7 separate regions of the Homo sapiens genome follow, and all the other regions are linked to region 3. Evidence: fine-mapped expression QTL. A gene starts in region 3. Each other region holds a variant in brackets. All regions are shown on one strand. Distances are from middle to middle.

Evidence for each region. PIP is the estimated chance that this variant, and not a neighbour inherited with it, causes the effect.
Region 1: its variant is fine-mapped to the expression of RTKN2 in whole blood (INTERVAL, PIP 0.98).
Region 2: its variant is fine-mapped to the expression of RTKN2 in sun-exposed skin (GTEx, PIP 0.97). The same link has a PIP of 0.9 or more in unexposed skin.
Region 4: its variant is fine-mapped to the expression of RTKN2 in whole blood (INTERVAL, PIP above 0.99).
Region 5: its variant is fine-mapped to the expression of RTKN2 in whole blood (INTERVAL, PIP above 0.99).
Region 6: its variant is fine-mapped to the expression of RTKN2 in whole blood (TOPMed, PIP above 0.99).
Region 7: its variant is fine-mapped to the expression of RTKN2 in lung (TOPMed, PIP above 0.99).

The regions. Positions count from the first base shown.
Region 1 is chr10:62,224,955-62,229,202 of GRCh38, forward strand. The region is part of intron 6 of RTKN2 (rhotekin 2); the gene reads right to left. Among named protein-coding and RNA genes, the nearest start is that of LINC02621, 32 kb to the right of the region's middle. The variant T/C (reference allele first, on the strand shown) is at 2,736.
Region 2 is chr10:62,433,677-62,437,968 of GRCh38, forward strand. It overlaps a transcript of ZNF365 not described here. Among named protein-coding and RNA genes, the nearest start is that of ZNF365, 61 kb to the left of the region's middle. The variant G/A (reference allele first, on the strand shown) is at 2,438.
Region 3 is chr10:62,267,066-62,271,314 of GRCh38, forward strand. It overlaps RTKN2 (rhotekin 2), which reads right to left and starts at 1,779. Exons shown (of 12, transcript NM_145307.4): 1 at 1,486-1,779. The coding sequence starts at 1,545. All of the region lies in intron 1 of LINC02621 (long intergenic non-protein coding RNA 2621), which reads left to right. RefSeq lists a silencer at 1,531-1,860.
Region 4 is chr10:62,192,841-62,197,115 of GRCh38, forward strand. RTKN2 (rhotekin 2) reads right to left here. Exons shown (of 12, transcript NM_145307.4): 12 at 246-4,275. Among named protein-coding and RNA genes, the nearest start is that of LINC02621, 64 kb to the right of the region's middle. The variant T/C (reference allele first, on the strand shown) is at 2,426.
Region 5 is chr10:62,145,762-62,150,066 of GRCh38, forward strand. No RefSeq gene overlaps it. Among named protein-coding and RNA genes, the nearest start is that of LINC02621, 110 kb to the right of the region's middle. The variant G/C (reference allele first, on the strand shown) is at 2,161.
Region 6 is chr10:62,207,457-62,211,761 of GRCh38, forward strand. All of the region lies in intron 9 of RTKN2 (rhotekin 2), which reads right to left. Among named protein-coding and RNA genes, the nearest start is that of LINC02621, 50 kb to the right of the region's middle. The variant C/T (reference allele first, on the strand shown) is at 2,096.
Region 7 is chr10:62,305,972-62,310,276 of GRCh38, forward strand. No RefSeq gene overlaps it. Among named protein-coding and RNA genes, the nearest start is that of RTKN2, 39 kb to the left of the region's middle. The variant C/T (reference allele first, on the strand shown) is at 1,778.

The DNA of each region.
Region 1 (4,248 bases), 42 kb before region 3:
TGTAATAGGAAAGTTGATAAAAAGTGGAATGATAGGGTCTGATTTATATTAATTTCCCAGGGACAAAGGCTGTCTTTTTGACCAAACTCTAGCCATGATCCTCTGAGTCCTTTACTCAACTAGGCCTCAACCTTGGCCTCTAAGGACCTGAACAAACACTAGCATTGTTTCTAGCAGCTCTAACCTGCATCCCTAAGATGTCTTCTTAAAGTGCCTGCTTGAGAAAACTCGAGGCTGACAAAATAATTTATTGTTTGTTCCAACCAAGAGCTGAAAACAGGGCCTTTCAGTCTTTCAGTCTCTGTGAGAAGGTAGGAGACTAATTTTGATAAATACCAGCTAGAGCACCCAGGTGGGTTCCACATGGACCAATCCCCCCTTCCCACTATCTGGAACTTTTCACTTAGCTAACTCTGAGCCTCACTCAACCTCTCCCAGTTTCCTCACTTTCCTTTAAAATGACCAGTTGTCTCTACACAAATCAAAGTTGAGTGCAATTCATGTGTGACTCTTCTTATTGTAATAGCACATTACTGATTCAAATCTGTCCTTACCACTTTAGCATCCAACTTTTTTTATTTTTCACAGAATGAATCTCCTTCTTCTGGTTATCTACATCAGAGATTTGAGGGTTTTATCTATAGTGTGAGAACATGGATGACTTCATTACACTCATTCCATTTTTTTCATTATAGTTCCCTTTGTGGTACTTACGTTAAAATAGCACTCTTACCAAAATACCTAGAATTTCTCGTGATGAATTTCATATCCTGGCACTTCGTGGTGATAAAAAGTGAATTTATGTTCAGTAACAACTGTATTTTCTTTTCTTTTTTTTTTTTTTTGAGACGGAGTCTCACTCTGTCACCCAGGCTGGAGTGCAGTGGCACAATCTCGACTCACTGCAAGCTCCGCCTTCCGGGTTCATGCCATTCTCCTCCCTCAGCCTCCCGAGTAGCTGGGACTACAGGCGCCCGCCACCATGCCCAGCTTATTTTTCGTATTTTTAGTAGAGACGGGGTTTCACCGTGTTAGCCAGGAATGGTCTCGATCTCCTGACCTCATGATCCACCTGCCTTGGCCTCCCAAAGTGCTGGGATTACAGGTGTGAGCCACTGCGCCCGGCAACAACTGTATTTTCTATGCTAGCAATCCTAATTTTTTTCATGATTTTCTTGATTTTATTTTTTTTCCAAATCAGTAAAATCTCAAAACATCAACGAGTATATTAAAAGAGAGAGACAAAGAGAGATATAGAAGACAGTGATGTCTGATGGGAATTTATATTAATTATGCTAGGTGTTATGTTTCATAAACCTCCTTTGTTTCTTACTAAATCCTTAATAAAGTCTCTATTACAAAAATACATATGCATACACTTAGTAAGTATGCAATGTATGCATGCACTTCAATAAATAATAGCATACTTCATAGAATACTACTCCCTTGGAGAATGCCTCTTGGCTTTTACTATATAGTCATTACAGACCAAAGATAACTCTCTATACCCAGTGTTTCTGGTCAATGTTTATATAGGAAAATTTATGTTTCTGTCTCCAAATTTCAACATAACATTTTAAACAAAACAATGCATGAGTACATTTTCGAGTTACATTCTGAATTGGTATAATGTCAGACTCACACTTAGGCTTTTCAAAAGTTCACTATATATCAACAAATCTTAACTGCTGCTAGAACTAAGAGAGGGACAAGTGGCCATTCTCTGCTATTATTCATTTATTCTGAACAAGTTTCTACAGTGCCTTTCACAATAAGCTCTTATTTTTCCCTATTGTTCACATAATGAATCCCCAAAAAGTTGAAGTATTAAAGAAAACTGTGGAGAAAGAATCAAAGTAGGCTGGGCATGGTGGCTCACGCCTATAATGCCAGAACTTTGGGAGGGTGAGGCAGGAGAATTGCTTGAACCCGGGAGGCGGAGGCTGCAGTGAGCCAAGATCGTGCCACTGCACTCCAGCCTGAGTGACAGAATGAGACTGTCTCAAAAAAATAACTAGAAGGGGGTTTTAAATTGATAACACATTATAACGTTTCCCACTTAAAATAATGGGAAGTAGACTCACTGTGAGCACTTTAGGGCAGAATATGTTATTTTCAAGAAAAGATTATCGACAATAAGTGGGGTGCCTTCATTTGCCAGGCACTGTTCCAGGTGTTAAAACGACAACAATCAACGAAATAGGGGAGGAGAATGTATAAATATGTAAACATACATTTATATATTTATCTATTTTTCCTCTCTTATACAGGAAGAAAAATAGATAGAAAAATATATAATTGTATCAAGCCCATGAAGCTAAGTAAAGCATGGTGAAGGGATTAAGGTCAGGGGAGAGTGCTATTTCAGATGGCCAAAGGAGAAGAAGGCCTATCTGCAAAAGTAACACTTGAGTGAAGACCTGAAAGGAAGAAAGGAGCCACAAGAAGAACAGAAGGAAGAGTATTTCAGGCAGAGGACAATACATATAAAGGCTAAGGTGAGTACATGCTAGGTGTGTTTGACAAACAAGGAGGTCACTGTGACTGGAGTATAGTGAGGGAGGCAGAGTGATTTGAGATGTCCAAAAGGTAAGTAGGGGGCAGACAGACAGACAATACCACAGTCCTGGTGGGGCACGGTAAGGAACACTGGATTTGGAGTGAGATGTGCAGCAAATGGTAGGTTCCGAGCAGAGTCATGTGCTATGATCTGACTTGTATCAAAATTAAATGAT[T/C]CCTCTGGCTGCTGTGTGGAGAACAGACTACAGAGGCCAGGAGTGAAAAATGAAGACACCAACTAAAAGGCTACTGCAACTGACCAGGCAAGAGCTGTTGCAGGCCTGGAATAGAACGGTGGTGGTGGGGTGGTGAGAAATGGTTGAGATTCCTGATATATTCTCTAAGTTTCAGTGCAAAGACAGGATGTGAAAGCAGGGAGAGAATTAAAGACATCTCCAAGGCTTCTGGTCCAAGCAACTAGAAAAATGGAATTGTTATGAACTGAAATGAGGCTGACTGAGAAACAGATAAAGGAGGTAAGAATTCAGTTTGGGGCAAATAAGTTTAAGACTGTTTTTGATATCTAGGTGCATTATTTGAGATTGTTTTCAGTATCTAGATGCATCCAGGCAACTGGATATATGAGTCTGGAGTTAGAAGAGAAATAGGTATTGGAGATATAAATTTGGGAGTTATCAGTATATACATGAAATTTAATGAAAGTTAGTTAGGTGAAGTCCAAGGACCAAATACTGGGACACAAGCACTCCATTAAATGAAGAGCAATGAACAAAGGAGACAAGCAATGAATAAATGGTTACTGAGGTGGAAGAAAAATCAAGAAAGTGGTATTCTAGACGCCATATAAAAATAGTATTTCAAGGAGAGTGATCAATTGTGTTAATACCAAAAGGTCCAGGAAGAGGAACTCCAATAACTGACAATCAAATGTGGCAACATTAGATCACTGTTGACCTTGACGAGACTAGTTTCTGTAGGATGGGATGGAGGTAACATGAGGTAAGCCAACTGAAATGGTTCAATAGAGAATGGCAGAAGAGGAAGTAGATAGGAATATAAAAAATTATTTTCCATGAAGGATAGTTATGAAATAAAAAATTATTTTCCATGAAGGATAGTTATGAAATTGAAGGTATTTCAGCATGTTTATAAGTATACAGAAATGATGCCGTACTAAAGTTGGTGATGTAGGATAGGTGGGGAGGAAACATGCAGGAGCCTACTGTGAGTAACTGAGAAGTGGGCTCTAGCGCACAAGTAGACAGGCCTTAGATGAGGTGAAGGTAGTTCACAAGAAAGGAAACAGCAAACACTGAGGCAGATGTGGGTAGGCTGGCAGATTTGGTGGATGGAGGATATTTTTCTCTTCCAATTACTTCAGTAATACCAATGACATATGAAACAAAGTTATCAGCTATGAATGAGGGGCAGAGAGAGGATATTGGCAGTTAGAGAGGAGAACATGTGAAATACTTACCTTGAAGAGAGGTAAAGTAGAAGACTATAGAAACAGTAGAATTGCTCGGTCATACTGGGAACCCACTTAAGGTTAGGGATTATGTATCTCAAGTGAGACCAGGAAGTATAACTGTTTTTCTCTTGCTTCTTCATCTATTCCTCATGAGTACGAGTGCAAAGGAACTAAAAGTAGGAGTTAACCAAGGTTGGAGTTTTTCCAAGGCAAGTATGACAAAAGAAGAGAGATGCTAGGAAAGGATAAAACAGTAA
Region 2 (4,292 bases), 170 kb after region 3:
GATGGCATCGGTAGAGCTTGCCTTTAAATCCTGGACCCCAATCCAGGCCAAACACACATTATGATTGGAGTTAAAAAAAATGTTTTCACAACAAGGAAATATTGAAATAAGTCAGCTAACATTTTCATTTGGAAATACAGAGGAAGTTAAGGCGTTTTGGGGGTGCTTAGTTTCCTTGTGTGTATTTTTATAGTTTTTTAGTGGGATGGAGATTTAGTGGAGGCAGGCTGGTACAAGGGAAAGAATCCAGGTCCAGGAACTGAAGATTCTTAGTGAGCTGTGTGACCCAGATGTACTTTCAGGGCTTTCTCAGACTTAGTTTCTTCTGCTAGTAAATGAAAATGTGTGTGTTAGTGTTTCCTAAACCTGCTTGAACATAAGGATCACCTGGGGCACGTGTTAAAAAAATCTGAATGCACTTGGCCTCACCCAAACCTGTCGGAATCCGAATCAGCAGGGTGAGGCCTGAGAATTGATATTTTAACCAGCACCTTGGGTGATTTTTTTGTTCAGACAAGTTTGGGAAACATTGAATTAGATAATCAGTAAGATATGCTTCGGGTCTAAGATTGCTCAGTGGTGCTTCAACACAGCAAACCTTATTTTTTTTTTCTCCCTGTAAATTGGAGAAACAACAATCAAATGAAAAACAAATCAACTGATGGGTGGAGAGGTTTTGGTGGGGCTAATGTGCAACTTTATCACAATGCTTACAAACGTTTGTGGGTATACTTAACCTCAGGTGCTCAAGGACTGTGTGTTGTCCCTGCTCTAAATTGATACTTCCTCTTAGGAAGGGCCTGAACAATTCATTCATCCTAGAATGAAGAGCCTTCTTGCATTTTCTCTCTGGCATATTAATATAATTAGATGTCGGTGGGACTGAGACTAGCAGGGAAAGCACTGAAAGCAGTCAATGACTTTACCTACTTGGAAGACTGCACGGAACCGGCTCCACTTGAAGTAGGAAAGCCTGCCTCAGAAGGACAGTGAAATAGGACATTTCTCCCCTAAGCAAGGAAGTATACTGGAAATCAGAACAAAATTAGTGTTGTCATTGCAGAGTGCAAGCTCTGGGCAGCCTCCTTAAGCTGTTTTAATCTCTTCTCACAAAGTCATCTGCTAACAAGGGACATTAGAATAACCTCATTCAGAAGAGTGAAAACTCATCAATCATACATTTCTTCTTTTAGTATTCAGTATTATTTATTGAGGAAACTTATTTATTCATGTCTTCAACATTACTTCTTGAATCCTCCCATGCATCAGACACTGTTTCAGACCCTCTGGATACAGCAATGAACAAGATGGGTTCCTGAATGCATGGAGCTTGAATTCCAGAAGCAGAGATAGACAATAAAATCTGACAAATAAATAAGACCATTTCAGAGGGTGGAAAGGGGTATTTTGGAAACTAAATAGAGAAACCAACTTAAAGAATGACTGGCTAATGACAGACTAAGAAAGATCTTAGTTTATAGGACTTGCTGAGATTTGGGAAGGACTATTTAGACATGATCTTCTTCACTCACAGATGAGCATGTGTCTCTGCATTGGTGGGTGAAATAATTGAGGTCCAGGGAGGATAAAGGACTGACGAAGGAAATGGCAAGACCAGCACCCAGGTCTAGCGTTTGGAGGTAAATTTTTTTCTGATAAACTTAACCTTCTGAATAATACTCCCAAGAAGAAGGTTTCATTTTTTGCCTCACACATGCCTGAGATATATTTATCTGAGTCCTTTTGTATTCAACACTAGCTCTGGTTTAAGTGATGAAAAAGGTTAGAGATCTGGAATAGTGCAAGGCTCTCCACCCTAAATGCTGCAGAATGTTAGTAGCCCATTTTCAGGAGATTAAAGGATAACACTCGGCCAATAATAGCAAGATACCATAGACTTTTAATATCATCTGACAAAGACTATGGAAAAATGGCTTGTTCCCAATCAAGGGAGATCTATAATGGCTTGATCATCAGAAATGAAAAATCAATCCCAATTCTCATCCATTCTTTTAGCTACCATGCATATTATTTTTACCATGGATATTTACAGCTACATTTCCATCCAGACTTCTGGCAATGCCTAAATTCTTCCATAACAAGAAAACAAACTCATTTCTTTTAAAAACCAGTCTCTTCCCCATAGGCAAAGTGGATAAACAGCCTACTCAAATTTGATGTCATTATCTGAAATATCTAGCAAAAGACTAGTTGTATAAAAAATGATATTTCAGCATTGGTGCAAAAGAAGGCTACCCATTCTGACAGTTCTGTGGTATTTTGTCCTTTTAACTTAATGCTTGGAATGTAGGATTTCACACCTGAGACTCTTCAAAATTTTTACTTCATGGGTATTTGGTTTTTTTTGTAATACCGTAATACTTTAAGACTGTTACTTTTCTTTCTTATTCAGCCTTACTGATGCACTGGTCTGAAC[G/A]TCTTTGTGAGTTTCACTTATATATATATAAAGGAGCCACCACCATCTAATGTATTATAAAAGATACTATAATTAGCGTGTAACTGGCAATCCCACCAGGCAAGCAAGCAATTTTCCAGGCCATGGGAATTTTCTTCTAGACAAATAGGAAAGTTCCAACAGCCATATAAATTAAATAGGGTAAAAAGTTGGTTAACTGGTACTAAAGTAACTAGAACCCTTAATTAAACTAAGTGATTATTTTGGGGAAGTTAAAAGAGGGTACAGGGAATCATTCTTTATATTTAGGAGAAAAAAAAGCCACTGGCAAAAAAATAAATAACAATTGAGATTTAGTTACACAATAAAATTATAGAACATATCCAGATTTGTAATAACACATAAAAATATAATGCTAAAAAGGATAATTTTGATGCTTTACAAGACCTTAGTTGTTAATTAGGTTCATTATTTCATTAAGGCAGGAAGATTTTCACCAAGAAATTTTTATTCACTAAGAAATGAATATTTCCTGAAGCCTTTTGAATCTTGCCAGCACCCTTCATGACCAACATCATTGCACTTACTAAGTTCCTGCTTCTTGTTGAGCAGAGCCAATTAACTGAAAAAGCTAATGATGGAAGGACAACCAATTGGGATCTAGTAAGATCTAGCCCTGTAGCTGGTAACATTGTGCCAGGAATTTAATATGCCTGAGCAGGCTCATCTGTAAGATGGTTATGATAGTACTGTTTATATCATAAGTTGGTTAGGAGGGTTAAATGCCTAGCTCAATGCACCGTAAACAACGAGTGCTCCAAAAAATGTGGCTAGCACACACACACACCAAGCATTTCAAACAAGACCTATAAGCAGATGGACTTCTGACTATAAACTTTCTTATAAATTCCACATAAACTCTCTCTAGCTAAGAGGGAGAGTCAAATACCACATTTAAATGTATGTATGAGAAATGTATTCTCTGTTTCCAGTGATTTCAGAATCAGAGATCATTTTGGATGGTTTATTTTAAAGTCTTCCACAATCTATACCCATAGATACAAATATATGTGTCTGTGGGTGTTTTGGAAAATAGGATTGGGTGGAGGCAGGGAAATGTATGTGGTTGAATTCAGTTAAGCAACTGGCTGTTTTGCGACTAATGATTTGTAAGTAGCAGTTTGGCTGAATTTAACTTTTTTTGTCTTTAAAAAATGTAGTTTTCTGAAATTTATCTAAAAAAGTTGATCTATATCAAGCTTTAGGGTAACTTCGTCATGGTTTCCTTGCTTTCTGGAAATTCTACGCACGTCATAGAGTAAATGTCAAATTTTAAATAGGAAATCAATATTCTTCTCTAAGAGGCTTTGAGAATAAATAGCTATTTTAATTCTTTCTCAGGAAGGGATTTCATAAGGAATTGTAATGACGGAAGCAGACAAAGTTTAAAGCGAGTTTTTAGCAAGTTATTTACATCTCATGTTATGTTTTCCAGGCAGTTAACAAACAGCCAGATCATCAGAGTAAGGTGTAACTCATAAAGCTTTTTCCTTCTAAATTCACACATATACGTACGTGTGTGTGTGAATAGTATATGCAATTTAAAGGTTGTGAGATTGGTAGCAAATGCACTTTTCTGTAAATCTCCTGGCTTCTTTTCCTTCCTTTGACCAGAAACAAGCAGCCCTGATAATTATATTCTCTACCACTAGGGGGTGACAGCTGATAATCTATCCACATACTTTAAAGTAAGACAAACCACAGGCTTGATTATGTAGGTATTAATCTTTCTTTTATTGGTCGCCTGGTGAGATTTGGTTTGATGAGTTTTATTTGCTGAACACGCTCTACATCCAACATCATTCTTCTGTCGTGA
Region 3 (4,249 bases):
TTCAGTGTTAGTCAAGTATAAAATTATCTGACTCTCAATATTCCTGTTAGGTTGCAACCTACTACTATTTTGTGTTTTTTCTTCAAATCCAAACTGAGGAAGTAATTCCACATTTCAATCATTTTGATTTTGTCCTGCCTAAGAAATTAAGTATTGTATCTTCCCACATGTAAATAACCCAGGCTTTATGTATATTTAAACATTTATTTTCATTCCATGCAACTAAACTTCATGATTTTATCCTCTTGTCGCTTCTGTACCATTCCTATTCTTGCAGCCTGCAGCTCAATAAATACACCTGGACAGCTACACCTACACCTATATGATAGGTGCAAGAACATCAATAGAATGGCAATTCACTATAAATCAAGATTTTGTTAGCAATCAGGACAGCCAAAGTACATAACAGGACAGGACTGAAAAAAAGTACATCAAAATCTTTGAAATTTTTGAAAATGCTGGCATAAAACAGCATAAGTATTACTGATAAAGACACTGGACTTCTTTTGCATAATGAATCTTAATGTCTTGCTTTATTTTTCACAGTATTATTGAAAACTAATAATTTTGTGTCTGCTAAGGAAATCCCAGATTTTTAAACAAAGATATCAGGTGCCTCCATATGAATGAAATTGCAAATATTCTACCAATTTTGACCTACAAAACTGGCAATTTCATATGGCTTAACCTATTTCTGAAGTAGGTAAAAGAAGGTAGAGATTAAAATAGAAGTGAAGGTCCAGCTTAAAGACATCAGAGTTTTCTTTTAAGACCCTAAAGTTATGGTTAAGAGTGAAAAGTGGTAACATTTTAATAACTGATGCTGCCAAGAAATAATGTTGGTTTAGTAAAAAGTAAAATAAAAAGGTTTCTAACGCATTTTACATGGCTCAAAAGCAAACATCAAACTTCTATCCAATGTCACGTGTACTCCCTCTTTCCTTTCAAATGATTTGAGAAAGAACCCAGTATCAAACCTTCAACTTTTTCTAAAGTGCAGAGGTTGCTGTTTGCCTCTACTCCGCTCCGAACCCCCTCCCCCCAACCAGTTCTGTGTTGTGTGTAGACATCGCTCCATTACTGTGCTTCCCATTAAATCCGTAATAAGCCAGCTGTCCACTGGCCTCGCTGGGTTTCTTGGGAATCGAGGGGCTCCCATTTCCCCGGCATCACCTACACCTGCAAAAAGACAGGCGTCCAAAGCCTGGGGAGGGCAGCGGACAGGTGCGCCCGCAAACGCGCGCCTGGACCCCGGCACCGCCTTCCCAATCCGGACCTCAGCTGCCTGAGAAACTCGGGGGTTCCGATGTCCAGGCCCTTTAGAGCCCCAAGAGCGCAGTCTCCTAATCCCTCCCTTTGTTTCTGGCCACCGCTGAAATAGAGGAGCGGGGGAGAGGCTTTCCCGACTCCTCCACAAAGCAAATGCGCGAGGAACAGAACCCCGGCTCCCTCACCTTCCGCGGCAGGGTCCCTCCCGCAACTCACCTGCTGGGTGGGAAGCCCCGCCAGGCGGAGCGCAGGACCCCTCAGGCTCGGCCCCTCCATCTCCAACGCGAACTGTCCGGGCCGTCGCCACTCCTTCAAAGGGAAGATTTGAAAAGCCCGCCCCTGGCAGGAGCCGCAGAGGACGCCAACCGCCCGGCCGTACCAAGTCCCAGTCGCAGGGGCCGGGGGCGCAGGAGGAGCCGGGCCGAAGCGCACGCGCAGTGGGCGCGCCTTGCGCTCTGCAGCTCCCGCCGCCGGAAGTTGCCGAGACCCCAGGCTCTAGCGCGGCGGGGCGGGGGAGAGGGCGGCGGTGCCGGACTTAAGTCCCGGACAGGGATGTGGGCGGGCCTGGGACGGGAGTGGGAGGGGCCGCGGGGAAAGCTTCGGCGGCGGAGCGCACCTGTCCCAGCTCAGGTTTCTGGCTGGTGGTTTTCGTGGCACGCCCTTTGCACTGGGAGCTTTCTGCCCGCATCCCACCGAAGGCCTTCCAAAGTGATCGTAGCTGGACAGACTCGAGGCTGCAGTCCCTGTACTCCCAGACAACTCAGGAACCCACAGCGTCACTAAGAGCCCACGGTCTCGTTCCTAAAGAACCAATAACATTACTCTCAAACACAGCGCTCTCTGTTTCCTCTCACCTTTCCCAGCGTTGTCACCAGGGTCACCCAGATATCATGGTTTTATTCATCAGGTTCGTGAGATACTATGTCAGGCATTTCACAAGGTCTTGTCTTTGCCCCCAGTGTTTATAATCCCAGATGTTCCCCGCCAACTACTCTGTCCACTTACTTTGTTTTCTTGCGAAGGATTTCTTTCAGCTCTCTCGCCCTCTCTTTCCCTCTCCAACATCTAAGGTGATAGCAAAATGGGGTACTATTTCTCAAGAGCCTCATTTCTTGCTGCCCTAAAGATTAGCACAAAGACCCATTTTAATTCATGGATTTTGTTAATTATAAAGGGAAACATGGGATTTTTAAAAATCAAAATGAAAGCAGCAAAGATATCACACCCTTGAAAAGTCCTTAAAATTCATTGTCCCTAGTTTATCTTTATTTCCCCCTTGAAAAGGCAAGAGGAAGCCTCTTCTTGAAGAGTCTACCAAATCAACCCTCCAGCCCTCATCGCCTAGAAACCCTTGGGCATTTTTCCTCCATAAATAGGTGCCCATGTTTTTTCATTTGCCTGGGACAGACCCTGTCTGGGTCTGTTGTCCCAATGTTGCACCAATCTTGCACTTATCCCGTAGTGGATATTATGTGGTCATTTTAACTGCAAGACCCTTTTAAAAGCAGTTGGTTTGAGAATGTACTTTAAAAATATAATGGATACCCTTCCTCAAATAGGTAAAATGCCTCTTTAAGACCTTTTGGACTAGGTGATACTAGAAGCTTCCCAGTTGGGAATGATGGTCCCCTTGCATTATGAATGACCCATATCCTTACAACAATAAAATATGTGTTCAAAATTATCAACACGGAGCTCACCTCGTTTTCTACAAACACAGGTCTGAATTTCAGAATCATTATGTGCCCTTTCCTCCAATGCACATCTCTGTCTTATGCTACCACTTTGTGGTATAATTATCTCCTACTCAGTATGAGGCTGCATGAGCCTAGCTGTAGTACCTGACTCAAAAGAAAAACACACCGCGAGCCCATCATCAGACACATAGTACTTACAACACATACAGCTCTCAGTTGCAGATCAAAATACATGTAGAAGCCAGCACTTCATTAAAACAGAGGTGAGTCAACCAGTTTAGAATTGGACACTGATAGAGGAGTATTTGATGAGTTAAAACCAGATATTTAACTGGAGATACATTTATTTATGATACTAGAAGAAAGAGATTAGGCAAGATCATATTTAGTAATTATCTGTAGAATACAGTTGTTACAAGAGACCTTTCTCTTGGGAGAAGAAGTTATGATGTGGTCCTGTTTTTATTATACACCGGGAGAGGTCCCCAGGAATTGCTTAAGTACTTAATTATTATATGATGATTAAAATACCTTGGAGTAGGACTTATGTTTCCTTATTTATCCTCAAGTCCTTACTTGTTACTGCTAATTTCATCAGCCAGTTTTCTCTGGTGTATGTAATGCACATAAAATATACTCATCCATGGAAACTACAAAATTTAAAGAGTTCATATGCAGTGGCTTCATTAGCTTGAGGATTTCTCTATCAATCTATTTATTTTACAGTTCCCAGAAAGTGAGAAGTACTACGTTTTACCATCTCAAATATCTGAGAGAGAACATTTGGGCATCTCTTAACCCATCATCCCTGGGCTCTTACAGAAGGTCGATATCCACCGAACTGCCCAGATGTAGTAGCTTCAGCTAGAGGATGAGTGATGGAATTACTGTCCTACCAATATTACTTCTCACTATAAGGTCAATATTTAATACTAATTAAAAATATACGTATATTAGTTATCCCTAATATAGCAGATAGTATTATAATAAATTAAAAACTACAGAAGCCAATCTAGATAATACCAATAGATGCCAAAGTATATTTTTCTTCTCTTATTTTCTGTATTCTTGTTTTAAACTAAGAGGCTAAAGGAAAACACTGAACTTAAAATCAGCTCTCTGTTACACAACAGATCCATTATTTTGAAAAATGTGGTTTGACACAGAACAGATAACTTGTGATTTTGAATATCCTCCTAGCCTCTCTTATAAAAAAAAAGTCCTCTTAAAAATTCTCTTGGTGCTTTCTTTTACTCATCTGTTCATCTTGTAGATAATCTGTT
Region 4 (4,275 bases), 74 kb before region 3:
AAGGGGATTTGAAATTTTTATTCTGCTCCATTGGAAGCATATTTTAAAAGAATTTTTTAAAACTAACTGAAAATACCTGAAGAATCTAACACACTATGTGTATGAGTATGTATGTATGTATGTTATATCTATAGTATTATATTTTATATACATAAAACACACATTTTAATATTTGAGGTAAGTGAATAATTCCTCTTACTACTATTCTCCCTGTTAATATAAAATTATAAAATTGCTACAACTAATTCAGTTAAATGTTTATTAAGATTAAGTTCTACAAAAATGCATCCATTCATAATTTTGAGTAGATAAACAAAATATAAAAATATTTTTAAGCAAGACACCAAAAAGTATTCATTTTCAACAAAACAATTTATTTTGATATCTTGAACCATCTGACATAATTATGTATATACAAGATCTTTTCAATCTACCTCTCCTTTAGTAGTTACATTAAGAGATTACCATGTCTCAAGAGCAAACTGCTGGAATTTAAAACACAATTTTCCATAAGATCTGGAATGATCTTTTCTAATTATTAAACGTGTCAGCATTAGTATTTTCTCCCATACTCAGATAAAGAAAAATGTTTGTTAAAATTTCTGTAACTTTTTTTGTTGTTAATTGAATGTAAAGGTAGTTTGTTTCTCTAAGCACATTGATTAGTAGGCCTCTCTCTGTAAAGTATTTTTTTAATTTTAAATATTTCTGATCACACTACAGATTTAGAAATAAAATGCTGAAATAATCCAACTGAGCCAGGATTGCTCATTTCTCTCCCCCACTCTGAGGCGCTCTGCAGGAATAAAGTACTGAGGGAGGTACATTAAAATAAGGAGACTCCTTGTGGCTAGTAGCGACTGAATATCCTACGTACCTAATTTACTGCAGTGGCTTAAGCTCTGGGGAAATTCTGGATCACTAAACTAAAAGTAAGGTTATGTCAATGGATTTTTAAAAGAGTATACTTTAAGAAGGATTATATGTAAACATTTTAATAATGTTAATTATACCATGGCTTATCAGAATGTTAGTCTTATAATAATTAGCACCAGCTACTTGGTATGTCTTTTTCTGATTAAACTGATTCCACCACACTGTCTACTTCAATCAGTCTAGTCTAGAGGAGCACTTAAAGAGAAAAAGTTAGAAAACGTCTTCATGAATCAGTTCTTTTAATGTACAGAAGTTTCAATTACATGACTTGGGCTCGCTTACCAAATACCTTTGGTACTTTAAAAAATGTATGTCCATGATATAATACTTTTTAATCCAAAAGTCTGACCCATATTAAAAAATAAAAATTATAAACAAAGCCAATTACACAAGCATGTCAGAAAATCAACACACCCTAATATATTTTCAAATGATGACTTGTCTTTTAAAAACCCAAAGGTAACATCTTTCCCAGAGTTAACTAAGAACATCTATGATCCAGAATATGCAGATTTCATTTAACTATTAATAGCAATGAAGCAGTTGCACACAAACATGTAAACATATGTAAACATTTAAAAATAGTGATGCCTTTGAAATGTAAGGGGAAAATGTCAACTTTACATTATAATTTAAGACTAACAGTGAAGATGGCTACTAGAATATAAATGGTCATCAGTTAAAGTTTAATTACTATTCAATAATTCACTCTTTAACAAGAAAATGAGTTTTGATAAATTCAGACCACAGGGACAGATATTTTTCTTGCAGAGCAGTTCTTGCTCATGGTGCAATGCAGTACTCTGTCCATGTAGTATAGTTGTGCCTCATTCGTGGTAACACAGGTGATTACATTCAAATGGCATTTAACATAAATTGCACCAAACTGCCCTATAATTTCATTTTGGACTGAATTAATTAACTTCTCAGTAGGGGGCTGAGGTGCTGAACATAAGCCTAAAGAAATACTTGACTGCTTAACCTACCTTACGTGAGGTATCTCTAATTCAAGACAGCTTCCATTTTTAATAAATAGTAGCAGGTAAAATGCATTTAGTAAGATCCCAAAGGGTAAAGATAAGGCATTTATAATAAATGGATTTAGTTTTCCACATATATTCACATCCATTTAAAAGAAGTCAGGGGGCACTGCAGACAGTTAAGGAGGATTTAACAAAACTCAGCAAGAGTTGGCACGCCTGATATTTTTGAAAGACTATTTACCTTAGGAGGTGTGCATTTAGAATTTTAAAAATGCCTTCTTTGCCCTTGCAAGATATTAAAATACAAAAGTTACCACTTAGTAGCAATTAAAAATAATACTATCTTAATGCTGACTACGTAATTTATATCCCAGAGCTTGAAATGTAAAGGTAATTGTCTAAGACATTATCTTTAGATCATCAGAATTATCATATCATAAAATATCTATTCTGTTTCCCCAATTATATTATCAAGAGCTGACAGCTAACTCTTTGTTTCAAGTTTA[T/C]AGTCTTCATATATCAAGAAACAAATTAAAAGGACAAACAAGGAATGTGAAAGCTCATAAAAAGCTGAAGCAGCTTTCATATTACATGGCATATTTATTTGTCATAAACTTCTGGTTTAAGAAATGAGAAAACAAACAATTCTTTTGAAACACTCTTTGACACAGTGCTTAACTATTTTTAGATTTTTTTTTTAAACTGTAAAGGAAGGGAGGAAGGAGAGACAGAAGGAAAGTGGGAAAAGGGGATGAGACAGAGAGAGAGGACAGGGGGCCAGAGAAAGAAACAAAGACAAAAAGGAAGGAAGGAGGGAAGGAGGGAAGGAGAGACGGACAGAGGGAATGAAGGAAGGAAGGAAGGAAGGAAGGAAGGAAGGAAGGAAGGAAGGAAGGAAGGAAGGAAGGAAGGAAACCAACTCTGTATTATAACTACACTCCTTAGGTAAGGGGTAAATTAGCATTTCAGGAGCTGAAGACACCAGACCCATTTCAAAGACTTGTAACATACAGTAAGCTGGGCCCCCCAGAAAGAGACCGAATAATTTGGTGGGGAGGGGGTGGTGGTCCTTGCTCAGGCTTTTAAATGGTTCTAGGTAAAAAGGGCTTCAGTCCTGTTTCAAAGTTCTACTCTGAGGGCACAACTGCTAGGTAATTTCTGTATGAATACTTTCTTTTTCTTATACACCTTAAGTCCTTCCTGCTGTTATCTGCATGAGGAAAAATGACAAGAATATAATCTGGAAGTTTTAATACTGATTTGTAATAAAGGAAGGCATCAACTAGGAAAAAAAAAAGAATGCTTAGATGCCAGCTTCAAAACAATTTTCCCTGCAGCATCTTCTAGCTCAATAATTTAGTGGCAATGACAGTCACAAATGCTGTCAAAAACAGCAATGAAGTTTTAAAAAATAACCCAAAAATTCAAACAATAATATCCTTTAGATTTTTAATGTCATTTATTGAAATGGCAATCATAACAGAAACTTATGAGAGCCTTCTAGTTAGAAAAAATAAGTTTACTTTTTAAGGTTTCCATACATGTGATGATCTCTACATGCTATCAAGCAGGCATATAGTACTTTCTTCTCACCAAAAACTCTGTCTGTCCTGATGTTACCAGTCACAAGAAACCTTTTGTTATCATTACTCCCTCAAGATTCAATTCTTACTAGGAGTCCTGGGCAAACACAAAAGTGTCCTGGCAGTTACATCATTCTCTATAAATGGAAAAGACCCCGCTATCTGAAAATAATGAAAGGCTCCATTTAAATTAATGTGGTTTTTTGGTCAAGTGTTCATTTTGTTTTGTAATAATGTAGTTCTGATCCAAATAGAGTTCTTGCTAGCTTTAAAAAGATCTCAAGAGATTATACACAGGGCAGCAATTTAATTCTTAAATTTTTATTTCTTGCAATGACATTTAGGGTTCAGTGTGATTTGAGATTTTTAGTGCTGTTGCTGACACCTTATGGAAACTGTTTTATTTGGAAATTCTAATTAGATTTTTAAAACTGTTCTGCTCTTGTTTACAAAAAGCATTATTATAAAAAATGGATTTTTTGTTCCTTTAAGGTATTTTTCTGCTATTTATTCCTCACTTGACTTTATAATCCTGTTTGGGTCACTATGATTAGTTGCTATGGAAATTACCTCCTATGGAAATGATTCCAATGTCACTGTTGTAAGAATATGACATTTAATGAAAAATACCACTAGCAGACATCAACTCTTACTAGGAAAAGGAAATCTAATTAAAATTTTAAAAAAGAATTCTGAAAATTATTTACCATGGCCAACTTTTCTGATATTTTTGAATCTCTCATCTTCTTTTTAAATAAGTATTAAATGAATTT
Region 5 (4,305 bases), 120 kb before region 3:
CCCCTGGCTACACTGTCCTAGAACCAGAGCACTTAGTCTAGTCGGTGGAGTTTTCAGACATCCCTCTGGGAGGAATTGCAAAATCTGACCAGTCCACTAACAGATTTCCCTTTTTATCCCTAGTTGTTTCTGTTATTGCAATGACTACATTAGACTATGTCACCATGGAAAAGACATGGCCTTCCCAGCCAGATGCATCCTTGCCCACTACTTCCATAATGCCACACACAGTTCAGACTGCAGTAGATTTTTGAGGAAGGATGGCCTTGTTAGCTTAGTGTCATGCTTGTCTATGATGCTCCAACCTTGGGCTCCTGAGGTTATAATCCATCCTCATACATTCAGCCAGTGTCCCAAAGTGAACCCACCATGCTAGGTAGATGAATTAATAGGCGCATCTTCAAACTCCAATTCCCCTAAGTTAATGGTGAATTCCTTCTCACTTGACCTTCCTTTCTTGTAAGTAGGACTCACTCAGGACCACCTCAGTTCATCAGGCCTTCAAAAATGGGAGGGTTCCCACACTAGATCTATTTGATTTACCCACTGGTTGTTCAGAAACTAGTCCTATATGCCCAGGGGTATAGAGAGAGGTAACATTGTTAAGGCACCTGTGGGTCTTCAGTGGTGTCCCATGAAGCTGGAGCCACTTTGCTTGCATTTGCATGGAGGTTTCTACTGTCATATATTCAAGCTCAGATATGTCAGTGACTGAGACTTCACTTCCAGCATCCCCCAGCAAATGTGGTCCTTCACCAACGTAGAAAACCCAGCTAGCTCCCTTACCTCCGGTTGGACAACTGTGAGGTGTAACTAGCGCTCCAAAGTTTCTCTGTGGGAATGGCGGTGAAGCAACTTCATCTCCTTGTTCAGTTTCTTTCCTTTCCTTGTTCTGCTTTCTTCACCTGCTCACTGAACTCCCTTGGAAGCACTTCCCTAATCAATCGCTTCTCATGATCCTCATCTCGGGGTCTGCTCTTGGGGAACTCAACTCAAGAAACCATCTAATGAGGTCAAGGCAGTGAATGCCTTCTATTGTATGGATGTATGTATGTATGTATTTGAGATGGAGTCTCGCTCTGTTGTCCAGGCTGGAGTGCAGTGATGCTATCTCAGCTCACTGCAACCTCCGCCTCCTGGGTTCAAGTGATTCTCCTGCCTCAGCCTCCCGAGTTGCTGGGATTACAGGCATGTGCCACCATGCCCAGATAATTTTTGTATTTTTAGTAGAGATGGGGTTTCACCATGTTGGCCAGGCTGGTCTTGAACTCCTAACCTCAAGTGATCCACCTGCCTCAGCCTCCCAAAGTGCTGGGATTACAGGCATGAGCCACCACGCCCGGCCGGCAGTGAATGCCATCTAGTCTTACATTTTCATAGCCAAGAGGGTCCCTCAGTGTGCTCCAGAAGGATTTGTTTCCTCCAAGTGGAATGGCAAACACCGTTGAAATGGTAGCTACTCATACAAATAAATGAAATTCTCTATTTCTGCCCAAGAAAACTCTTTTCTATTGGTTGCTCCAATATTTTTACTTATTATTTTTCTTGTGATTATCCCTAAGAGGCTTGAAAATGGCCAAGGTCCACAGTCACCAAATAATTCACTTGACTGATCATCATATTCAGGAAACTTGCTTGAGTATTTACTCTGAAGTCAAAGACTTTCTGATGCCTCCTTTCCCAACCTCTCCTTTTTTTTTTCTCCTAGTGCCTTTATTCAGGTAAAACTGACACCCATATGTCCCCTGTCTTGCCCAGTCAAGGCCTATGCATGGAAATGATTAAACCAGTTAGTGGCGAAAGGCATGGTTTCTACTTTTCTTCACTTGGTAAGAGACGGTGGGGGAAGGTCAGGATAAGTAATGAAAAGCACTAGATGGTGCTCAAGACATTTCAGAGATCAGACAATCAGTATGAGGAGAATTCTGGAACACAGGGGCCTTTGAAGATACCCTCTGGCATTTGTCCCCAGTACACAGTTGCTGGTTGTAGGCTATTCCGTATTCACAGTTTGTAGATTAATCCTCGTGAGAGAGGGGTGTGCTGCCCCTTGTCCCCATCTCTGTACCTCACCTGGTGCTGGTGAGAGCTCAAGAATACAGGTTACTTGGGTTTCAGGTCAGCAACACAGGTGGCTACGGGAAGTCTACATGGTGTGGT[G/C]GGCGAGGCCTCAAGTTCAGCAGAAGACAAGCTTGATTCAAATCCTGGCTCTACACTTGTGAGCTATGTGGCTATAAGAAAATCACTGAACCTCTCTGTGGCTCCATTTCCCTGGATAGAAAATGAAGATAATGATAGTGACCTCCAAGAGTTGTTCTGAAGCATAGAAATGAGATCAAACATGTGCAATGGTTGGCACCAAGTAAATACCTGAGAAATAGCAATTCCTATCCTCCCATACAGCAAGGTTTAGTAAATGACACTAGGTTTATCTGAGTCATCATTCAGCTTTATAAAGACTGAACATGCCTCCCTCGCCCCACAATTAATCCCCCAAATTAACATTTTGGAACTTTGAAATCAGAAGGTAATTTTCATGTCACCTTGTCTAACCCACCCATTTTGCAGGTGATAAAATTGAGGCCTAGAGGATTCAGGGCTTTGTTCAAAGCCTGCTGTTTCTCCTCTATTACCCCTTGCCCTACACCTTGTTAATTATCACCTTTTTGAAGTCCATGTTTACAAATCCTGGTGAATGTTTAGCTATTTGCGCTTGCAGTATTATTTTGTGAGGTGTGGCCATGAGGGGTTATTTCAGGTCTTTCGCTATGGTCCCCCAAAAGGAAAATGCTGTCAATTCTTCAGAGCCCCCTAAGGGTGTCAAGTCAGTACTCGGCCACAGGCCATTGGTTCTAGATACTTCCTTCCTGAGAGAAGATTGTTCTCTCTGGACGCATTTGTCCTCTGGCCTAAATGCATTCTGCCATGGTCAAGGTGGTGAGGCTGGAGGAGAGAGTTTTACATAAGCTGGGACAGTCCAATCAGCTTCCTGGCCTTTAGTGGCTGCTGACTTTGCCAGACACTTGTGCTCTGGGGAGACAGCTCTCCCTCTGTCTAACCCCAGGCTCTGTTGCAAATTTAGAGATCCAGAGTTGGGTCTTCAAGGCCAGAGGCCTCCAGCAGCCTAGAGCTCTGCTTCCTCACCAGCCAGCTAGCCCATTTCTGCACCATAGCCTTTCCAGAGTGTGACAGGCCACCAGTGGTCTTGGGGACAAAAATTATGAAAACAGACCAACCAGAACATTGTCAGGAGCGTCCTGCAGCTTCCCAAAGAGTTGTTCTCGCAGTGTCAAATGCATTAAGTCCTACCAGGGAAAACAGGAGAGATGTGACTGAAATACTCTTGGCGCCTCCTCAACCCCAGAGTGCTTCACTGCACAGCCCCCACTTCAATGCCACCCTCAGCCCCCAGCTTCTAGGATACCCCTGGGAGAAGATATCAAAGTCTGAGTGATGGCAGGTGGGTGGATAGACACATCAGAATCTGGTTGGGTGTGGGGAACACAAGACAGGTTTGAAAAGTTCCCCAGCTTATTCTGACGAATTCTCCCTCTGTCTCGGTTTGCCAGACTTAGCAAATAAAAACACAGGACACTGGCCGGGTGCGGTGGGTCACACCTGTAATCCCAGCACTTTGGAAGGCTGACGCGGGCGGATTACCTGAGGTCAGGAGTTCCAGACCAGCCTGGTCAACATGGTGAAACCCCATCTCTACTAAAAATACAAAAATTAGCCAGGCATGGTGGCACACGCCTGTAATCCCAGCTACTTGGGAGGCTGAGGCAGGAGAATTGCTTGAGCCTAGCAGGCGGAGGTTGCAGTGAGCAGAGATCGTGCCACTGCACTCCAGCCTGGCCGACAGAGCAAGACTCTGTCTCAAAGAAAAACAAAAACAAACAAACAAAAGACAGGACACCTAGTTAATCTGAATTTAGATAAACAATGAATAGTTTTTAATTTAAATGTGTCCTATGTGATATTGGGAGAATACTTATACTAAAAAAAAACTGTTTATCTGAAACTCAGTTTTAACAGGGCATCATTGTATTTTATCTGGCAACTCTCCCACCTTCCCCACCCTCAAACAGGAAAGTGACATTTTAAAATACCATTCTAAAAAAAATACACTAACTGTCAAAAAGTAGAGAAGTATAAAAAATAAAAATAAAAACCAGGCATAATTTTACCATCCAGAGTTGTTAAGCACTGCTATCATTTTGGTCTATTCCTTGTCAGTCTGTGTGTGTCTGTCAGAGGTTTATTGTCAACCATGTATTTATTTATAAAATTTGGATTACACCAAAC
Region 6 (4,305 bases), 60 kb before region 3:
TGATTAATACAAGTAAAGTTTCTTAGAGTGTCAGAAAGTTCATGCAAGCTGTTTTTTCACTGTGGAAAAATATCAACAATAGTTCTCACGTCTTCAATTCTCAAAAAAGGAAGTGATTAGAAAACACTAAGGTGAATTTTAGGACTGTTATTTATGGGCTTATGTGTTTATATAAGTGACTCCTCTTAGGGTATGAAAACAAGGAACTTGGTAATTCCCTGCCTCCCCCCCATATTTCTGCCACCTAAAATATTGCCTAGTACTCAGTAAATGGCTAAAAAATATTTAAAGAATAAACAAATGAAACAGGAAAAGAACAACTCAAATAATGATTAAAAAGTTTTGTATTGATAGACCCAGATCCTAGAAATAATCTCCAATCCAATTCTTTATGAGGAAACATGTTCTGTGAGAATTATTCTATTAAGCCCAGCGTTTCCTGTATTGTTTTTGCTAATCTCAAAACTTCAATTACCTAGGAGGTTTTATAGTCAACTTTTCTTGATTTGTAAATAGATTTGAGATTATTCACTGTGTAATTTTAATCTGTAGCTGGATTTGCTTTTCGTCAGTCTGCAATTTTTCACTCCATGAGATGGTGTTGTTACCTAGAGAATGCCAAGTGAAGTCAATAAAAACATAAACTGGGAAGTCAATTTTGTAATAAAATATAAACTCTAAAGTCACAGGAAAGTTTCATTTAGGTTTTTAAAAATTATTATTTTGAATTAAAACTGTACTTCCTCCTCTTCATTTCCATATACGTGGAAAATTACTAGATCAGGACTAGATTTATAAATTATATATGTTACTTTTGACTATACGACCATAAAAAATGCACCCAGATTATGGTCTCTAAATACTCTTTACTAAAAACATCAGAGCTTTTCAAATAAATGGCTGACTCTCAGCCTGGGCCAGGAAATGTATAAGATGATTCTGGAACATCTTGTCCTATCAGAAATCTAAGATTCCTAGGGTTATGTCAAAAGGATTCAAGAGTCAACTCGAAGGGGCTTCTACTAGTCAAACATTGGACATTGATTAGAACATTGACTAGAATAGCAATGGCAATGGACAGACACATGACATGTATTTAAATCCAAAAATTCAAAACGATATTTAAAAATGAACTCATTGGTCACCTGTGAAAGATGGTAGGAAACCATCTCATTGTTTTGGTAACTGACATATAAATGGGAAAAAACAAACAAGCAAACAAACAAACAAAAAAACAAAAAAAACCCCAAGCACTTTTCCTGTCTTCCCTATAAGAATTGTACTTCAGGGTAACCAAATAGCTGATGAAGTAGAGGCATTCCAGCTATAACGAATGTAAAAATACTACCAGTTTGTAATCCTTAATGAAATAAAGGATCTAAAACAATGCTCATCAGTGGTTGTTAAGATGAGTGGAAGACCTAGATATATGATATGCTTCTTGATGAAAGTATATGACCCTTCCTAAAATGTATTCTTACTAACCAACCAACAAATCTGAATATGATCCAAAAATATAAGAAAAAAGGCAGGCTGGGTGCGGTGGCTCATGCCAGTAATCCCAGCACTTTGGGAGGAAGAGGCAGGTGGATCACTTGAGGTCGGGAGTTCGAGACCAGCCTAACCAACGCGGAGAAACCCATCTCTACTAAAAATACAAAATTAGCTGGGCGTGGTGGCGCATGCCTGTAATCCCAGCTACCCGGGAGGCTGAGGCAGGAGAATCGCTTAAACTTGGGAGGCAGAGGTTGCAATAAGCCGAGATTGCTCCACTGCTCTCCAGCCTGGGCAACACGAGCGAAACTCCATCTCAAAAAAAAAGAAGAAGAAAAGAAAAATGGCAACCCAGGTATGCAACTAGAAAAATCCAGACTATGGAAAAACCCTGCAGGATAAAAGATCAATTTCTTCAGCAAATAAATTGTCTATGGTGTGTGTGTGTGTGTGTTTGAAGTGGGGAGTTAGAGGTGTGAGTGAGCATAAGCCAACATATTCATTATTATTATTATTATTGTTAAACTTTTAAGTTCAGGGGTACAAGTGCAGGTTTGTTACATAGGTAAACTTGTGTCATGGGGGTCTACTGTAAAGATTA[C/T]TTAATCACCCAGGTATTAAGCCTAGTAACTATTAGTTATTTTTCCTGATCTCCCTCTTCCCACCCTCCACACTCTCCGATAGGCCTCAGAGTGTGTTGTTACCCTCTATATGTCCATGTGTTCTCATCATTTAGCTCTCACTTATAAGTGAGAAAATGTGGTATTTGGTTTTCTGTTCCTGTGTTAGTTTGCTAAGGATAATGTCCTCCAGCTCCATCTATGTCCTTGCAAAGGACATGATCTAGTTCATTTTTATGGCTGCAGAGCATTCCATGGTGTATGTGTACCACATTTTCTTGATCCAGCCCACCACTGATGGGCATTTAGGTTGATTCCATGTCTTTGCTACTGTGAATGGTGCTGCAATGAAAATATGTGTGCATGTGTCTTTATAATAGAATGATTTATATTCTTTTGGGTATATACCCAGTAATGGGATTGCTGGGTCGAATGGTATCTGTCTTTAGGTCTTTGAGGAATCAACACACTGTCTTTCACAATGGCTGAACTAATTTACACCCCCACCAACAATGTATGAGCATTCCTTTTTCTAAAGAGACTTAAAAGACCTAATCAATCAACCATAATATGTGGCCCTTATTTGGATCCTAACTCAAAAACTTACAAAAATTGAGACTAGGGATCTTAAAGACTGCCTGGATTTTTAACGATATATTAACTACATATAATTATATCTACATATGACAACTTATATATAAAACCATAAATTTTCTTAAGTGTGACAATTGGAATATTTACAAGTAAAATGATATGGTCTCTAGGATTTGCTTCAAAATATATCTAATGTGGGGGCAATGTGTGAGAGTACACATGGGTTCATTTATACTATTCTATGTATAAATTACCTTGAATTTTTTTCCAAAGAAAATAATTAAAAAATAAAATACAAACACAAAAACCAAAGTCAGTCTATTATTAATGCCTCTTTCTTGGCTGTAATGCAGATATCTCACATCTTCCTTACAAACATGCTGTAAAGATAAATGAGTTATTTGAAAAGTGCTTCGTCTGAAGTCCTGTTAATCAGCAATGAAGACAAAATGTTGGTGCTAAAAACAAGCTTTAGACTTTATATATACTCTAATGACAAAAAAGGATATCTTCATGTATACGACAAGGAATGTTTGAAATATGTAATGCATAGCTGTAAGTTAAACCAACCATGAGGTATGATTAGTATCAGTTTAATATAATTATTTTAAATTTATATTAATTAAATCAGATGTAAACTCCTACAGGAAAATGTTTGAAAAATTATTTTTGCTATATTTACTTTTAAAAATCTGAATAGTTGATATGATTAGATATTAAGGAAACTAATATAATTGGATTAAAATCCCATGTGCTTCATAATAATTTTGCTTTCTAGGTTCTATGATAAATATAATAGTTAAAAGTATTTTCAAAACAATTTATCCAAAGTCTACTACACTAAATAGTGTTATTGACTTGTTTAGTACAGATTTTATTAAAATGAATGATGTATATAATATTTAAAACAAGAAAAGGCTTGATCTCAAAGACTCACACTTTTTTTTAACCGTCACACCCCTCACCATATTGACAATGGATAAAGCTTTAGTTAACAAAATGCTTTCTATAATGTGTAGGAAATTCAGTTAAGTACCTGTTATTGAGAATGTCTTGCTCAAGAACATTCTTGTGAAGTTTTCTGAATTTGAAGCAATCACTTTGAAGTAAATCACCCTTTCAAATTTGGATTGACAATGGGAGGGGAATAGCTCTTAGGCTTTTCTTCCCTTAATGTGACTATTTCCACAGATGGCTCCCTATGAAAATTAATGAACTAACTTAGCCTTACAAGAAATGCCATTTAGAAGGACAAGAATTATAGCTTGAGAACAGATCCTGTGATCTAAATAACAGAACTATTATTTATATACCTTAGCAATTGTGAAATTTATGTTTTCAAATAATTTTTAAGTAGCATTAAGGAAAATTATTTTCATGAGAAAAGAAGAAAGACAATCAAAAGACAAAAAACTCTGATTTGTATTTAATGTTTAACATTATTAAGCTTAAAGATCTTAGAGACCATTAGAAATATACTAAAAACTAAAAGAGAAACACTATTCTTTTTTCTTGAGATGGAGTCTCACTCTGTCACCCAGGCTGGAGTGCAGTGGCACAATCTCGGCTCACTGCAACCTCCACCTCCCAAGTTCAA
Region 7 (4,305 bases), 39 kb after region 3:
CTGCACTGCTTCCTCTCCTAGCATGAGTCTTCAGTGACCTTTTTTTGAACTCTCAAGCTCCAGAGAACACAGTTTGAAAGCCAATGGGCTTAGTTATTTTAAGATGCTTGTTTGAAAATTTTATGACCAACAAGAAAAGATGGCATAGTGAAGAAAAAACACACAGTTCTCAATGATAGTTGGAATCAGGCTCTACCCCTGAGCTATGGTTGGAATATGTTCCCAAAATTTATATATTGGAAACTTAATCTCCAATGCAGCAGTGTTAGGAGGTAATGGTTACCAGGAAGTGTTTACGTTATGAGGGCTGCATCCTCATGAATGGATTAATACTGTTATTAAAAAGGCTTCACGAGTGGGTTCACTCTCTCTTGCCTTTTGTCTTCTGCCATATGAAGATGTAGCAAGAAAGTCCTCACCAGACCAATTGCTGGTATCTTCCTCTTGGACTTCCCAGTATCCAGAAATATGAGATAGTAAGTTTCTGTTCTTTATGAATTACTCAGTCTCAGATATTCTGCTATAGCAGCACAAAATGGACTAAAACACCCTACATTACTCCGTGACTTTGTAAGTCATTTCTTGTCTGTCAGATAGAACTACCCTGCCTAATAGTGGTGTACTGATCAATGACTATATAACTTAGGAAGTAATTGTTCTGATTATTGCTAGAAAGCAAATTTCCTAAAACTTTTGTGGTTGAAATAGCACCTCAAGATTGTGTGGGTCAGGATTTCCAAAGCGTTTCCTTAGAGGAATTTTCTGTTTGCTTGAAGGTATTCAGCTGGAAAATGGGCTGGTTAGGATTGTCCACGTGAGTTTCACTCACATGTCTGTATTCTTGGCAGTGAAACAGGAAATTTACCCTGACTGCTTCGCGGGCAGGAACTAGAGTGCCGGCACTGGAGCTAGCTAGCTGCTTCAGCAACAGCAGGGGCAAACTTCACTCACTGGAACCTACTGTGCTCAACCCCTCGCGGGAAGGAGCATGTGGGTGCAGGAGCCGGGGCAACTGCTTCTGGGCACCAGCAGGAGCACAACTCCATGCGGGGCCTGCAGCAGCATCTAGTGGGGGGCACTCCCCCTTAAGCCCAAAAAGAAGTGTTACAGTCAGCAATCCTTTACCATTGCTGTCTGCAGACGGCTTATGTGTTAGCAGCTCAGTGTAGGGTCAGTGTGACACCTTTTGCATGCACCCTCTTGGCACCCAAGTTCTTGTCTAGCATTCAGGAGGAATTAGCTCACATAAGTGAGTTGAAGATGGTAAAGGTGGGGGATTTTATTGCTGGTGAAAGTGGCTCTCAGTGGGAAGGGGAGCTGAATAGGTGATGGAGCAGGAAGGTGATCTTCCCCTGGAGTCCAGTTGTCTAGGTTGGACTCCTCTCTGAAGCTACCCCGTCAAGCTGTCCCTCTGAAGTCAAATGCTTCTCTCCAACGTTCAAACATAGTCTCTGATGTCCAACTGTTTTTCCTCTTCTCTCTCTGCTGGCAGAGCCTAGGATTTTTATGGACACACAATGAGGGGTGGGGTGAGCCATGGGTGGTTTTGGAAATGTCAACATTTGAGTGGGAAAACAGGGATGTATGTTCTTACCTTGGGCTGTGGTTCCAGGCTTGAGGGTAGGGCCCTCGCTGGGGACCCATCCTCTTCTGCCCAGAATTTCCGTGCCTCTTGTCCCTATCATTAGGGATGGATGGATGACTGGAAGCCTGGACTCAGTCGAGACTGGCAACAGGAGTGCCTACCCCAGTTCTTTCCAGCATGACAGACTCAGGC[C/T]GAAGTCTCCAAGAATAATTTTCCAGCAAATGGGGCAGAAGCTGTATGGCCCTTTATGCCCCAGCTCTGGAAATCACTTAGCATTCCTTCTGCCATACTCTACTGGCCTAAGATTTCACAAGCTTGACAAGGTTCAAGAGGGAGGAATGGAGACCACACCTCTCAATGGGAAGAATGTCACAGAATTTGCAGCCATGTTTTAAAACTATCAAAGTTATTATAATCTTTAGAATCTGCCTCTTACTGCGTAAGTCAAGAAAAATTGATAAGAGTAATAGAATTCTCTCCACTGTCATAGGAAGAGAATATTGCAAGGGTCCACACTTTCTTGCAAATTTTATATTATGATTAAATGTACCATGCTGAACCAAATGCCAGGGGTCTCTTGAGTGCTATCCTTCAGGCAAGACTTTCACCTGTGCTATAGAATGTTTTTGGCAGAATTATTTGCCATCAGTATCCTTCAATATAAACAAGGCTTTTCTAGTAAGAAAGTGCTAACTCACTCAAGCATTGTTTAAAGCTGCTTTTGGGAATGACTCTTACAGTTCCTGGTATGTAGACTTTGTTATGCAACTAGAATCATTTGAATTTTTGTTCTTGCCTCCAGTTATACCAGAAACAAATAAGTTAAAATTCTAGAATGTTTGTTGTCTGGAGAAATATATTGAACACACTTTTGGACACAGCTTACTCTTTTAAAAAAATGTGCTATTATGTGGAAAGATAATTTAAAAGTGTTTAGGAGGCTAAGTTATATGTTGTCTTTGATACCGATAAAATGGACTTGGCTGGACTTTTCCTAAACAGATGAACGGTATCAAGGAGTCTCGTTCCACCACCGAAAGTCATTTTTTTTTTTACTTCTACTAATTCCACATATCTCCTGGAGAATTCTTCTCCTTGTGTGGAATATATAACTAAGAATTTTAAAAGATACATTAGGGAAAACAATATTGGGAATCAAATCAGAATACTTTGATGGAGAATTGCCATAGAATTTTTCGTAGAACTAAATATGAATTATTTTTCTTGTGTCTTGCACAAGACCACCTTATACCAAGTGGGTCTGCAGTCAATGACGATATAACCACCAAAATGTCTCTTTAGTCACCACAGCAGTCTCTAAAACTACCAGTACAGGTTAAGTCCTTTGTTTAAATTAAGGTAACTGGTCAATTAGAGTTCTTGCTACCCTTGGAGAGGTAACAATGAATAATTATCAGCAAGTGCTGCAGAGCTCAGTATTATTATCTGGGTAACTTGGCATCACTGAAGAGAAGGGAGGACAGTGTTCTGAGAGCTTGTAGCACAGGGAAGATAACCACAGCAAGGAGCACTGCTGGGATGACAGACCAGAGACACCACAACAGGGATCCTTGAACTCCAAGGGGTAGCAACAGGATATTGCAAGCAAGAGACACAGAGAGAAAAGCTGGGATGGAGAGCAAGATGGAAGGGTACACCATGATAAATCCTGCTTGTATTGTTTTGTATAAGGTCCAGCCTATCTCTATATGTGTCCAGTTTAGGAAAATAAAAGAACCTAGTCAACACCTTGGTTATGATTCACTCAGCCTCTCTATTTTTCAGCCTTACTAGGCAAACTATAGACAGGATTGTAAAGATTTGATGAAATGGTATACCTAGCAGTATCTGCCAAAAAAGAAACACTTCATAAGAAGTTCTTCAGTTCCCAGAAAGAAACAGATGGCACATTGCAATGAATTAATTTAAGAGTGTTTTGAAAAGGGACTTTTTATAAAAAAGACATGGATAGAATATAGTGAAAACTCAAGCTCAGTACAGCTGGCCACAATGACTACCTGAGGCCCACAGACGGAAGAAAAGGGGCAGTTGTGAGAACCTGGAGACAGAGAATAGTGTGAAGCGAGCTGCCTGACTGGAAGCCAGACAAAGCCAGTTTACAGCAACCCTGCAGTGGGGAGCTGATATGGTGTGGTTGTATCCCCATCCAGATCTCCTCTTGAGCTGTAGCTCCCATAATTCCCACAGGTAGCTCCCAGTGGGAGGGACCCAGTAGGAGATAATTGAATCACGTGGTAGTTTCTCCCATACTGTTCTTGTAAGTCTCATGAGATCTAATGGTTTTATTAGGGGAAACCCCTTTTGCTTGGTTCTCATTCTCTCTTGCTGCTGCCATGTAAGAAGTGCCTTTAGCCTTCTGCCATGATTGTGAGGCCTCCCCAGCCACGTGGAACTGTGAATCCGTTAAACCTCTTTTTCTTTATAAATTAGGCAGTCGCAGACATGTCTTTATCGGCAGCATGAAAATGGACTAATACAAGAGCTGGGGGAATAAACACTCCAACCTCTTCCTCCTCTCTCCTTTTAGCTCCCACTGGTTCTCTTCACTGACCACATCCAACTGGAGCTAAAGGGTAAGGAAGCCCACTCGTGGTATCCATATAGGTCAGCCTCCTAGGGGCACAAAATGGGGTGTGTGGAGATTGGATTTGGAGGGGCAAGTGGAAAAGGAAGCTAACACAGTATCCATAATAGTAACA